2 linked regions of the Homo sapiens genome follow. Each later gene encodes a partner of the first gene's protein in a complex. Each region holds a gene or a part of one and is shown on either strand. Other genes may lie near its edges.

Evidence for each region. The genes of interacting proteins can lie anywhere in the genome.
Region 2: TCF25 (region 1) and NEMF share a complex: the UniProt entries of both Homo sapiens proteins name them as parts of the ribosome quality control complex.

What each region holds. Positions count from the first base shown.
Region 1 is NC_000016.10:89,904,312-89,911,610, forward strand, and holds the end of TCF25 (ribosome quality control complex subunit TCF25), read left to right. Parts: intron 1-626; coding exon 627-785; intron 786-1,882; coding exon 1,883-1,973; intron 1,974-2,931; coding exon 2,932-3,011; intron 3,012-6,279; coding exon 6,280-6,352; intron 6,353-6,768; coding exon 6,769-6,927; 3' UTR 6,928-7,068; downstream 7,069-7,299. UniProt on the Homo sapiens protein: Component of the ribosome quality control complex (RQC), a ribosome-associated complex that mediates ubiquitination and extraction of incompletely synthesized nascent chains for proteasomal degradation.
Region 2 is NC_000014.9:49,849,627-49,856,750, forward strand, and holds the start of NEMF (ribosome quality control complex subunit NEMF), read right to left. Parts: upstream 3,163-7,124; 5' UTR 3,128-3,162; coding exon 3,069-3,127; intron 2,250-3,068; coding exon 2,181-2,249; intron 2,040-2,180; coding exon 1,937-2,039; intron 1-1,936. UniProt on the Homo sapiens protein: Key component of the ribosome quality control complex (RQC), a ribosome-associated complex that mediates the extraction of incompletely synthesized nascent chains from stalled ribosomes as well as their ubiquitin-mediated proteasomal degradation.

The DNA of each region.
Region 1 (7,299 bases):
GGAGGGGCTGTGGTGGCGGCCTCGGGGACTGTCATTTGACATGGGACGGCTCTGGAGCCCTCATCTGTGTGGAAAAGTCCAGGTGGGACAGCTGAGCAGCCTCCAGCTTAAAAACGAGGCTCATATAAAGAGGGTGCCAGGCGTGGCGGCACATGCCTGTAATCTCAGCTTTTTGGGAGGCCGGCTTGTGCCTGGGAGGTCAAAGGTACAGTGAGCTGTGTTTGTGCTGCTGCACTCCAGCCTGGGTGATGGTGAGACCCCGTCTCAAAAAACAAAATAAACAAAGAGGGAGCAAACACAGGAGAAAGTGCACGCCTTGGGGTCATCCCCTGGCCCTCCAGGGCTCGCCCTGTGTGCACGCAGATGGACCCGCCCTGGGTGCATTTTCACATTTCTGTGACGTCAGTCCTGCTTCCTAAAGAACATAACCTGCCCAACAGGCTCACGGCACATACCTGTGTGCCCCAGCCCCACGCCCTCAGGCCAGCAGCCCAGGGGCCTCCTTTCACTCCAGGCCACAGGGCACTCCCTGGACCCCCCGTCTGCCCATCCATGGGGCTCTGCCAGCCTCGAGGCAGGCTGTGGTCTGAAGAGGGGTTCTGCTCAGAGCCCTTGCTCTCCCCCAGCCAGCCCCCTGCCCTGAGCCAGCTGGTGAACCTGTACCTTGGGAGGTCACACTTTCTCTGGAAAGAGCCCGCCACCATGAGCTGGCTGGAGGAGAACGTCCACGAGGTTCTGCAAGCAGTGGACGCCGGGGACCCAGCCGTGGAAGCCTGTGAGAACCGGTGAGCTAGGGGTTGACACAAGCCCTGCCACGCCCCCTCCTCAGGGACCCTCATCCCAGACACGGGGGCCTCGCATTCGGGAGGCGAGAAGGGCTGTGAGCAGCTTGGCCTCCCTTGCTGTGGGGCCTGTGTGGAGCCTACAAGACAGCGCACAGCCCCTGGCGTGTCCCAGAGGCTTCCTGGGAGGCAGCTGTGGTGATCAGCGCAGGGTACCGAGCTGCTGTTCCCGGGTGCCTCGGGCTGGAGTGGTGCCTTCGGGTCTTGCAGTGTTTCCACATGAGCTGTGAGATGATGACGAGTCTCTCACAGCAGCATCTTGGGAGTAAAGAAATCTGGCAGAGACGAGAAAGAGTCTCCTGTCCTGTGTGTGAACACTTCGGAGGCTCATGCCCTAATATGCTGCAACTGACAGGCATCCCCTTGCTGTTCTTGTCTCGTTTGTCTGCGCCCTTGGCCCTGTGCTAGTTCTGTGCATCAGCACCGTGGCTCTGTGCAGTGGTGTGGCCAGGCTCAGGACCGCCTGGGAGTGGTGCCCATTTGCATCTCCACAGTGAAGTCTGTGTGCCGCGGACATGAGGTGTGCCCGGGGGTGCCCAAGAGGCGCTGGTGCCCCCAGCCGCTGGCAGTCATGGGCCCGTCCGCGTGTCTGCTGTCCCCACTGGACTGGACATTCTCATGGACAGGAGCATTTTGTTCCCTGTACTGCTCTCCAAGAGCGATTTCCAGCAGGGACCAGTGCCTGTGCCTGTAGCCGTAGCAGTGACGATGGTGACACACCCAGGTGTCCCTTCATGGAGATGAACTCAGTGACTTCCCACAAGAAGCCACTGGCTACGGCTCTCATCGTTCTTGTTCTTTGGATGAAGAGGCTGAGTCACTGGCCATGTGGCTGGGATTGGTCCCCAGAGGCTCCCCAGCCGCAGGCCAGGGACCAGCCATGGTGCCTCTGCTCGAGAGTAAAGTGTACAGTTTTTGCAGCCACCAGAGATGCAGCGAGATGCCTCGTGCTGGGTGGGGGTGGGGGCCGAGGCTCCATGGCGGTTACCATTTCATTTGCTGTGCTTTATCTGCTGTGCCTTGTTTCTCCCCGGCCCTAGGCGGAAGGTGCTCTACCAGCGTGCACCCAGGAATATCCACCGCCATGTGATCCTCTCTGAGATCAAGGAAGCCGTCGCTGCCCTGCCCCCGGTAAGGGAGAAAGGCTGAAATGGGAGCTCTGTGTAAGCCGGTCACATGCACGTCCCTTCTGCTCCGGGCGGTCCACATGCAGGCGTGCGTGGTGCGGGCTCCCTCAGCAGCCCAGCCCCGCCACGGCAGGGGCAGGGTCTAGTGCAGAGGGCTCCTCCTTTCCTGGCAGCCCGGGTTCGGATGCTTGTTGTTTTGAGAGAGAAATCCTTTGGGGCTCAGAGCACAAGCTGAGTCGTCACCGTGGTGAGCTGCTCCATCCGTGGTCTTGTGAGCGCGTGGTGCGGCTGCTGGGGGATTCTCTGTAGTCGTGGGGTGTAGTCCTGCTCTGACGCCTCCTGTGCTGGAGGTGCCGTTTCTGTCTCAAAACCTAAGGAGTTTGTACTGTTGTTAAGGGATAAGATAGAACGAGTGAGAAAACCAGCAAGTCAGAGGGTCGCAGGACCGTGGACCGTCCACTGGGGACAGCTTAGTGCCTCCTGGTTTAACTTCAGCTGCTCTGCGGGCCCTTATGACCGGCATGGCTGGCTTTGTCTGGGGCTGTGAGCTTCTGACTCTCCTCAGTAGAGTGGCAGCACGTGGCACTGTGCAACCCGAGGGCAGCTCAGGGTCCCTGTAGCCTGCATTTGCTGAAGTGGGAGCTTCTGACACGTGGTGAAGATGTTGGCAGGCTTGAGCGGCACGTGACCCCCTTCCTTCCCCACCACACACTCTGGTGTGCAGGGCAGACGCCGTGCAGGTTCATCTCGACTCCCGTGAGTGTCCTGGTGGCAGAAGGACTGTCCCACCCTCACCCAAAGCTCGTTGGTACAAAAAGCACAGCCGTTTCTGTCAGACTCTGTGGCTATCTCTCAGCAGATGCATCCAGTCCATGCTGGAGTCGACAGAAGGACTCTGCTGGGAGAGGTAGAGGCCCCCTGGCAGCATCTGTAGCATCTTCGTTTTATGTCCCTTTCTGAAGGACGTGACCACGCAGTCTGTGATGGGGTTTGATCCTCTGCCTCCTTCGGACACAATCTACTCCTACGTCAGGCCAGAGAGGTACCTCCCTCCTTCCAGTTCCCACCTCCCAGCTCCCACCTCCCTCCTCCCAGTTCCCAGCTCCCAGCTCCCACCTCCCAGCTCCAACCTTCCAGCTCCCAGCTCCCACCTAGCAGCTCCCGGCTCCTGGCTCCCACCTCCCTCCTCCCACCTCCCACCTCCCAGCTCCCACCTCCCTCCTCCCACCTCCCACCTCCCTCCTCCCAGTTCCTACCTCCCATCTCCCAGCTCCCAGCTGCCACCTCCCAGCTTCTGCCTCCCTCCTCCCAGTTCCCACCTCCCAGCTCCCACCTCCCAGCTCCCGCCTCCCTCATCCTAGTTCCCACCTCCCAGCTCCCAGCTCCCTCCTCCCACCTCCCACCTCCCTCCTTTCACCTCCCACCTGCCACCTCCCGCCTCCCACCTTCCAGCTCCCGCCTCCCACCTTCCAGCTCCCGCCTCCCTCCTCCCAGTTCCCACCTCCCACCTCCCAGCTCCCACCTCCCAACTCCCTCCTCCCACCTCCCACCTCACCTCCCTCCTCCCTCCTTCCAATTCCCACCTCCCAGCTCCCAGTTCCCACCTCCCAGCTCCCGCCTCCCACCTCCCAGCTCCTGCCTCCCTCCTCCCAGTTCCCAGCTCCCACCTCCCTCCTCCCGCCGCCTAGCTCCCACCTCCCAGCTCCCGCCTCCCACCTCCCAGCTACCGCCTCCCTCCTCCCAGTTCCCAGCTCCCACCTCCTACCTCCCAGCTCCCGCCTCCCACCTTACAGCCCCTGTCTCCTCCCTCCTCCCAGTTCCCAGCTCCCAGCTCCCGCCTCCCTCCTCTCACCTCCCCTGCCACCTCCTGCCTCCCTCCTCCCAGCTCCCACCTTCCAGCTCCCGCCTCCCTCCTCCAAGTTCCCACCTTCCAACCCCGCCTCCCTCCTCTCAGTTCCCACCTCCCAGCTCCCACCTCCCAGCTCCCTCTTCCCTCCTCCCAGTTCCCACCTCCCAGCTTCCTCCTCCCACCTTCTAGTTCCCACTTCTTTCCTCACAGTTCCCACCTCCCAGCTCCCATCTTCCAGCTCCCAGCTCCCACCTCCCTCCTTCCAGTTTCCACCTCCCAGCTCCCACCTCCCACCTTCCAGTTCCCACCTCCTTCCTCGCAGTTCCCACCTCCCAGTTCCCACCTGCCAGCTCCCACCTCTTTCCTCGCAGTTCCCACCTCCCACCTTCCAGCTCCCACCTCCCAGCTCCCTCCTCCCACCTTCCAGTTCCCACCTCTTTCCTCGCAGTTCCCACCTCCCAGCTCCCGCCTCCCTCCTCCCAGCTCCCACCTCCCAGCTCCCACCTCCCACCTCCCAGCTCCCACCTCCCAGCTCCCACCTCCCTCCTCCCAGCTCCCACCTCCCGCCTCCCAGCTCCCACCTCCCGGCTCCCGCCTCCCAGCTCCCAGCTCCTGCCTCCCACCTGCCAGCTCCCAGCTCCCGCCTCCCTCCTCCCAGTTTCCACCTCCCAGCTCCCACCTCGCAGCTCCCAGCTCCCAGCTCCCACCTCGCAGCTCCCAGCTCTCTCCTGCAGCTCTGAGGTCAGGGCTTTGGGGCTCACAGGGACTGGCTGCCTCTTTCAGACCCAGATGCTGAGAGATGGGGCTCAGGGCTAAGTGGGTCTTTCCCCTCACAGGAAGGGAGAGGAGGAGAGGAACAGTGTTATTTGGGGGTCACAGCTCTGCGTTTGCAGGCCACGTTCTTTCCCATCTCCACCGAATGTACAAGCGCTTGCGTGTCGGCCTCTGTGGCAGGTGCGAGTGACACAGTGGAAGCAGGTGTGCAGTGAAGTGGGGAAAACATATTAATTTTAGAATGTAGAAATAAACATAAAATCAAAACTGCACCAGCCTGGCCAACATGGCAAACCCCGTCTCAACTAAAAATACAAAACTTAGCCAGCTGGGTGCAGTGACTCACGCCTGTAATTCCAGCAGTTTGAGAGGCCAAGGTGGGCAAATCACAAGGTCAAGAGATTGAGACCAGCCTGGCCAACGTGCTGAAAACCCGTCTCTACTAAAATACAAAAAAATTAGCTGGGCGTGGTGCCGCACACCTGTAGTCCCAGCTACTTGGGAGGCTGAGGCAGGAAAATTGTTTGAACCCGGGAGGCACAGGTTGCAGTGAGTGGAGATCGTGCCACTGCACTCCATCCTGGCGACAGAGGAAGACTCCGTCTCAAAAAAAAAAAAAAAAAAAAAAATTGGGCGTGGTGGGTTGTGCCTGTAGTCCCAGCTACTCAGGAGGCTGAGGCAGGAGAATCCCTTGAACCCGGAAGGAGGGGGTTGCCGTGAGCTGAGATCACGCCACTGCACTCCAGCCTGGGTGACAGAGTGACTCCATCTCAAAAAAAAAAAAAAAAAAAATCCTCCAGTAAGGTGTTTGGAGGAAGGATGGTGGCTGTGCTGAGACGGAGAGGATGAATGTGCCCTCACCAGGCTCAGGGGAGAGGGTCCTTGTGTTCCCCAGCAGAGTCACGATGTGCCGAGGCCCTGTGCCAGGAGCAGAGCACACGGCACATTGAGAGAACAAAAGCCCCATGGCCAGACCGGGAGAGCAGGGCTGCGGCGCAAGAGGGCCAACTGCCAGGCGGCCGGTGTGTCTGGCTTTCAGAATCCGGGTCATTGAAAGGCTTTTTACCTTTTCCTTCTGGGCTGGAAAGTACTTGCCTTACCCAGGCCCCGTCACCCGCACAGCGGTCGTCGTGATTATCCCTGCCGGCAGGGTGTTGCAGCATTGAGGAATCGCGGTTCTTTGCTGCCTCCCTCCGCTGTGGAGCCCAGGCTTTCGCCCTCCCTAGAGCTCCTGAGGCCTGGCCGCTCAGCGTCCTGTAGAGCCGGGCCGGTAGCCCTTCGCACCGTGAGGGTCTCCGCTTAACGCAGGCCCTGGAAGCTTCTGCCTTTGCGTAAGGAGTGGGTGCTGAAGGAGACGTTGAAACTGCAGCTTTTCTGAAAAGCAAGGCACCTGTGCAGTGGCCGAGGATGGCTGTGGGAGCCTCGCTCCGGACGCCACGCCTGCCTCAGCTGAGTTGGTCTCCCTCATCCTGTTCCCGCTGTCCACAGCCCCACCCTAAGCTGATGAGGAAGCCTCACGGGCCACCCGGGGAATCCAGGGCCTGTGCTCAGCTGCTGCTGCTCTGCCCCCTGGCGGCCCCTCCGTGTCCCTGCGAGGGAGGCAGCTGGCAGGCAGCCCCGTGAGCCGGGTTGGGTCCCACGAGTCTCAGTTCAGTGTCGTTTCTGACTTTTCTTGACTTTCTTTCAGGCTAAGTCCTATCAGCCATGGAAACACCATTGCTCTCTTCTTCCGGTCACTGTTGCCAAACTATACCATGGAGGTAGGTTGAGCTCGTCCCAGCCCCTGCCTCCCCAGTGGGTGCGGGCATATCCATTCCAGTGCGAATGCCTGGAGCCTCCTTGAACCAGGACTGTGCCAGCCGGCACAGGGAGCAGGGAAGGACCAAGGCTGCATTGTGCCAGTGGGGTGCCCATTCTGCCGGGGAAACTGGGGCCTGCCCAGATGGTAGCAGATGCAGGGCCGTGAGTCAGCCGGCTTGATCCCACTCTGTGCCTGGCTTGGTCTAGACACGGCATTTGGTTTTGAGAGCTTCCTCCTCACAGGGACCTGGGGAGGGTTCAGGGTCCGGTGCTGGGGCAAGGGCCACCTCGGGCTCCACAGTGCCTCCTGCTTGGGCCCCGGGCCCCTAGTCCCAGCACAGACAGCCCCCTTCTCAGACATGTCCCCTTGCTGCAGGGGGAGAGGCCCGAGGAAGGAGTGGCTGGGGGTCTGAACCGCAACCAGGGCCTGAACAGGCTGATGCTGGCTGTGCGCGACATGATGGCCAACTTCCACCTCAACGACCTGGAGGCGCCGCACGAGGACGACGCTGAGGGGGAGGGGGAGTGGGACTGAGCGTCCGCAGAGGTGACCGAAAAGCCGTATGATGATGTTCCCGATTTCTCTGTTGGTCGGAGTCGGCCAGTTGCCTGAAGTAGGGAAGCTGAGTGTGTCGCTCCCTGGTCCACTGTTTCTCCTATAAATGTAAATGGGTCACGCTCTGCCGTCCGCACCTTCTCCTTTCGCAGGCACTGAGCGCCGTCCCATGCCCTCGGATTCGAATCACACTCAGTCCATTCTCCTCCCAGTGGCTTGTGGGTGAGGTGGGGCCCAGACCCCATGCTTCCTGTGCTCCCAGGATCTGGGCACGGGTGGAGAAGGGGCCCCACGGGGTCTTCAGTGCAGGTCCCTGCTGAATGCCAAGGCCCTGGGTGCACGTCCTCCTTG
Region 2 (7,124 bases), on another chromosome or scaffold:
ACCTATTAGTGTAGTCTGATTTGGAGATGTTTACACAATCCCAGTGTCCTATTTCATTGGCCTGTTACCTCATCCATAAAACTGAAATTGTATTTGTTCTTCACAGTCCACTGAGTTGCTAAACAACTTAAATGAAATACATATTATTCATCTGCCTTAAAAAGTGCTACACAACAGGTAGCATTATTATTGTCATTATTATTAAGGACAGGCCCCAAAAGAACTATTTTGGGTTACTATTAAATAAATTAAACTTTAATAATCTGAGAATTTTGTGAAAGCCCTTGTGATATGGAAACACTTACCTAATTTGTAATCCAAAACAGACTCTAAATTGCTGGGGGGTAAAGCTCTTCTCTGTAAAGCCTCTAATGAAATAACTCAATGCCATAACAGATACATTGCCAAAGTAAGGAGCGGAGCAGGAAGGAAATGAACATGTATGGAGTTCTAATATGTGTCAGGTATTGTTTCAGGTGCCTTTCTTTTTTTTTTAGATGGAGTCTCGCTCTGTCGCCCAGGCTGGAGTGAAACAGTGCGAACTCAGCTGACTGCAATCTCTATCTCCCAGGTTCAAGTGGTTCTCCTGCCCCATCCTCCCAAGTAGCTGGAATTACAGGTGTGTGCCACCACGCCTGGCTAGTAGAGACAGGGTTTCACCATGTTGGCTGGGCTGGCCTTGAACTTCTGACCTCAAGTGATCCACCTGCCTCAGCCTCCCAAAGTGTTGGAATTACAGGCATGAGCCACCGCACCTGGTCTGTTTTAGGTGTTTTATATATCATTTCAATTAATCCAATAATTTCATGAAGGAGGTACTATCCACATTTTACATTTAAAGAAACTAAATTCCAAGAGGTTAAGTAACTTTTCCAGGTTATAAAATTACTTTCTGACAAAGCTATTAATTCAAAGTTAAGTATATGTGACTCGAAAGTCTCGTGTACCACATGAATTTTCAATCTATATGTTACATCAATAAAAGAATGGGTAGCATGCCCACCCATGTAAAAATCTGTTTTAATAGTAAAAACAAAACAGAAAAATAAAAAGACTTAGTAACATATTAATGTCAGTGAGTATTCCAAAAAAAAAAAAATACTGACTGGGTACAGAGGAATACGACTCACAAAAGTGAGCTCTGGAAGATAAGACTAGGAAAAAAAGGTGGGGCAGGGAGGAGAAAGAACACAGAAAGCCAAGAATGTTAGGCTATAGAATATGGATTTAGAAATCAGGAAACCATAAAAGGTGAGGTAACTAATGAAAATTATACTTTAAAAAAATTAATGTTGGGCCAGGCGCGGTGGCTCATGCCTGTAATCCCAGCACTTCAGGAGGCTGAGGCTGGCGGATCACCTGAGGTCACGCATTTGAGATCAGACTGGCCAACATGGTGAAACCCCATCTCTACTAAAAATAGAGAAATTAGCCGGGTCTGGTGGCACACGCCTGTAATCCCAGCTACTGAGGAGGCTGAGGCAAGAGAATCACTTGAACCTGGGAGGCAGAGGTTGCAGTGAGCCAAGACTGTGCCACTGCACTCCAGCCTGGGTGACAGAGCGAGACTCCTTCTCAAAAACGAACAAAAAAACAAACAAACAAAAACAAAAAAATTAACGTTGGTCTAATTTAGAATTGTTTTGATGCAGAGAAGTGAATTACAGTTAAGGAACTGTAAGGCTGAATGTGATAAAAGCTTGAACTCTAATAGTGACTGTGGAAACAGAAGATCTGGAGCAGAACAGGATGTGAAAGGTAATGGGGAGAAATCAATTAATAAATATTCACTTTATTCAACCCATTATCTGTCAACCACTCCCTTTACCTTCATTTTATCTGCACTTTATTCGTAACAGTGAAGGAAACCCCAATTAAAAACTTAATTGTTAGTGAGCAATCTCTTAAAATTTAGCTTCAAGCGTAACAAGTTTACCTTCATGGCAAAACTAGACGGCATCATATTCTTAGGCCACTCAAATTCTGTTGTATGAATTCGTATGCCAGATTCAAGTAAAAGTGTAGCTTTAAAGTCCGGTCTGTAGAAGAAAAAAGTCGAATTTTTCTTTAGGGTATATGCCAAAGCTAATTGCTAAACAGGCTTAAAATGTAGGTTAAAAAAAATCAGTAATCTCATACTTAATTGTCAAAGAGAAAATAAGCCTATAAAATGTTCTTACTTTTGAAGACGAATAAGGTATGTCTTATTATCCACATCATAAACATTGTTTACTCTCATTCCTAGCAAGCTGCAAAGATAAAGGAAACATGTAACATGTTACACTATTGTCTGAAACATAAAACTACACATAATTTAATAAAAGCTTCGAAAGAGCGGATCTCAGTCTCTAAGGATATGGAGTCAGCCGAGGAGCAGAGTCTGAAAGCCATTTGGAGATTCAGTTCAAAACTTAAGAGTAACGATTTAAAAACAGAAGTGGTCTATCAGCTCTAGGAACAACACACTATAGCTTGCGTCTTCCAAATGACCCAATTTTGGGGGAGAAATACAGTAAAATATAATCCAATTAATTTATTACAAGGGAGAAAAAAAAAAGATAAAAGAGGGCCCCGAAAATATGACAAAGCTCACAGGGCTGAATAATAGAATCCAGACTAGAATCCAGATCTCAGTCCAAATCTGCTCAATCCAGCTAAAACCGCGATGCTCTCTCTCTCTCTGGGGTGAGGGGAGGGAGGTGTTCAAGAAACCAAGCCCCCAGTCTGGAAACCTCTGAAGCAAACGACCACTCTGGCGTCTCGTGTTTTAACAAACGTTTCCTGCCCAACCCGGACAACCCAGGCCAACAATGCAAGAGCTTCGCGCTAGCGGGGCAAGCCAGAGAGCTGGGAGGACGCGGGGGATGGGGCACGAGGTGCCTGGGACCCCCAGGGGTATCCTAAGGGTCACGGGAAAGACACCACACGCCTGCCCACTCAGGCCTAGGCAGGTCCATAGACGCACTAGGAAATAAGGAAACATATCAAGCTGGTCTGTTTGCGCCATGGGACTCCGGCCTCTGCCTCCTGCACTCCCCACACGAGCCTCGTCACTTAGGGTACTGTACCTAGCATTCAGCTCCGCGAGTACGGCGCGGAGGTCAATGGTGCTAAAGCGGCTCTTCATGGCGAGGCCCGAGGGTCACTACCGCAAGTTCCTCTACTGCCCGGCCGGACTCGACGCCACTTCTCCTCCGCGCAGGCGCACTTGGCGGAGCTCTACGGCCGCGCAGAAGACCCAATATTCCTCGAGGCGAACGTATTTGTGTCGCTTTTCTGAAGATTTCGATTGTCAAGTTGCAGCTGACTCTCTTCATTGTACCAAAATTCAAATTCGAATAAAGATTCAAACTGTTCTCTTGAAACTGCATTCCTTCCTGGAACCCTTACGGACCAGTCTGGTTACCGTGCCCCATTGTGTCTTGGGCTCAAGTCAGCCTTCATAGTGACCCCTGCTGGTCGAAACAATTTTCGAGATGATTATCAGGAGTATTTCCCCACAGGGGGGCCGTAGGGCTCAGTGTAGAAGAGCAAGGACCCCTTTCTGCGCGCTTACTTTGACATAAGATTTTGAAATGTAACGAAACGGAACTGCTTCGGTCCTTCTAAGATTATCCTCAACGATCGAGGCGAACTCTCAAAACGGAGTTCCTATTTTGATGGGTCCTGCTCTCGGAAGGAGCATTCTGCAATTGATTACAGGATTCTCATCGAACCTCGGTCTTGGTACCCCTGAGACTCACCGCAGTACCTGGTGTACAATCGGTGCTCCATAAACACTTGGCAGCATGAATGTGCAAGTGTTTAGCTAGATAATGGTGAAATAAGATAAAAATAAAAACAAGAAGATTCCCAATGGGGGTGGGGTGGGAGGGGGGATTCACAGTGTAGTGAGGAAAATAGTCCTGTAAGAATGTAAATTCTGCATTTCTTTTGTCTTAGGATAGATGCATGGGAAGAAAGGCTACTTTATAAGGTGAGAACTCAAAAGAGGCAGGGTCTCACTATGTTGCCCAGGCTGGAGTGCAGTGGCTATTCACAGGCGCAATCCCACTACTGATCAGCACGGGAGTTTTGACCTGCTCCGTTTCCGACCTGGGCCGGTTCACCCCTCCTTAGGCAACCTGGTGGTCCCCCGCTCCCGGGAGGTCACCATATTGATGCCGAACTCAGTGCGGACACCCGATCGGCATAGCGCACTACAGCCCAGAACTCCTGAACTCAAGGGATCCTCCAGCCTCAGCCTCCCGAGTAGCTGGGACTACAGGCACGCGCCACCGCGCCCGGCGCTCGGCGTCGCTGCAAAAGAGCTGCTAGAGGCTTGCAGGCTACACATGGTAGCAACCAGAATTCCTACCACCAGAAGGCGACTCTAAACAGAAAGGGCGCCGCTGCTATTTCAGAACTGGTACCAGTAGATGCAAAAATGGCTATAGCACATACTGCACAGCATTACTGTCATACGGTACAGTAAACCATACAGAATGGCCCAAAATATGAAAGCATTGGGGAGAAGGTGGAGAACAGGGAACTTTTGTATGCTGTTGATGGGAATGTAAATTAGTAGAGCCATTGTGCAAAACAGTATAAAGGCTCCTCACAAAATTAAGAATAGAATTACCATGTGATCTAGCAACAACATCACTATCCTGAAGATATATGTTCATGTTCATTGCAGCATTATTCACAATAGCCAAGATATAGGGATAATCTACTTTTCATCAATGGATGAACGGATAATGAGTGCAAATATATATGTACACACACACACACACACACATACATACATACAGTGGAATATTATTCAGCTTTCAAAAAAGAAATAAATCTTGCTGTTTGCAACTGGCATGGATTTAACAACATGGATGAACCTGGAGGACATTATGCTAAGTGAAATAAGCCAGACATAAAAAGACAAATACTGCATGATCTCACTTATACGTGGAATCTAGAAGTTTCTCATAGAAACAGACAGCAGAAATGTGGTTTCCAGGACTTGGGATGTAGGGGAAATGGGAAGATACTGGTCAAAATGCACAAACTTTCGGTTGTAAGTAGAGTAAGTTATGGAGACTTAATGTACAACATGCTGATTATAGTTCATAGTAATGTATTGTATGCTTGAAATTTGCATGGGAACAGAAAACCAAATACCGTATGTTCTCACTTATAAATGGGAGCTGAATGATGAGAACACATGGACCCATGGAGGGGAACAGCACACACTGGCGCTTATCAGAGGGTGGAGAATGGGAGGAGGGAGAGGGTCAGCAAAAATAACTAATGGGTACTAGGTTTAATACCTGGGTGATGAAATAACCTGTAAAACAAACCCCATGACACAAATTTACCTATATAACAAACCTGCACATATACCCCATGAACTTAAAATAAAAGTTAAATTAAAATAAAAAACAGAAATTTGCTAAGAAAGTGGATATCAAATACACACATACAAAGTGTGAGGTTATGGATGTGTTAATTGGCTTGATTGTAGTAATCATCTCACAGTGTATACATACATCAAAACATCACATGGCTGGGCCGGGTTGCTCACACCTATAATTCCAACACCTTGGGAGGCCAAGGCTGGCAGATGGCCTGAGCCCAGAAGACCAGCCCGGACAACATAGTGAGGCCCCCTCACCAATCTCTACAAAAAAATAAAAAAATTAGCCAGGTGTGATGGCATGTACCTATGGTCCCAGCTACATGGGAGGCTGAGGCAGGAGGATCCCTTCAGCCCAGGAGGTCAAGGCATGGTGGCCATAATTGTGCCACCACACTCCAGCAGGAGCTTCAGAGTAACACCCTGTCTAATAAAAAAAAAAAAAAAAAAAAAAAAAAAAAATTGGCCGGCTGCAGTGGCTCACGCCTGTAATCCCAGCACTTTGGGAGGCCAAGGTGGGTGTATAACCTGAGGTTGGGAGTTCAAGATCAGCCTGGTCAACATGCTGAAACCCTGTCTCTACTAAAAATACAAAAATTAGCCGGGCGTGGTGGCAGGCATCTGTAATCCCAGCTACTTGGGAGGCTAAGGCAGGAGAATCACTTGAACCCAGGAGGTGGAGGTTGCAAAGAGCCGAGACTGTGCCATTGTACTCTAGCCTGGGCAACAAGAGGGAAACCCTGTCTCAAAAAATATATATATATATAATATTTATATATATAGATATATGTATAATATATTTATATAATATGTATAATATATTTATATAATATTTATATAATATGTATAATATATTTATATAATATATAACATATTTATATATATATACACACCTCAAATATATGCAAATTTTATTTGTTCCCATAATTCATTTTACACTACTATAACAGAACACCACAAACTAAGTAATTTATAAAGAACATAAATTTAATGCCTCACAGTCCTGGAGACTAGGAAGTCCAAGATCAAAGGACTGGCATCTTGAAAGGGCTTTCTTGGTGTTACATCCCATGGTGGAAGAGCAACGAGAGAATGAGAGAGACAAGAGGACCAAACTCATCCTTTTATAAGGAAACCATTCCCATTTCTTTTTTCAGTAGCCCGAAACTGAGCCCCAGGCACTGTCTTATATAAAATATTTTAGTCTCTTATAAGCTTAGCATTAACCATCACTATGTTTGGCCTCATCAATAGATGTCTGGAATCTAGAATGAGAGATGGGATTTTTCAGTCCTATGCTTAGAGAGTAAATCAGAGATAGAATACATTGTTGTGTACTGGGGAATCATATTTTCCCAGAAAGACATACAAATGGAACAAACAGAATAGTGGAATTCAATTGAAACCATGTAATACAAAAAATAGTTGTGGTTCTTCTGGGTAAAAATAATGCTAAATTTGTTATTTATAACCCCAAGGGTTAAAGAAAGTACTAATGAAAAAATTTTAGGGCAATGGATTAAATCTTAACATAAGGAAGAACTTTCCGGTAGTAAAGACCGTTCAAATATTATTTAGAGATATATTCAGGCACTAAAAACCATTAAGAATAACAAGAGAATGCCACGAAGTCAGAATAGTGGTTATTTCTAAGAGGAAAGGTACTTGGGTGCGGGTTTCTGGGATGCAGGCAAAGTTCTATTTCTAGATGCCAATTATATAGTTTCTCACTTTA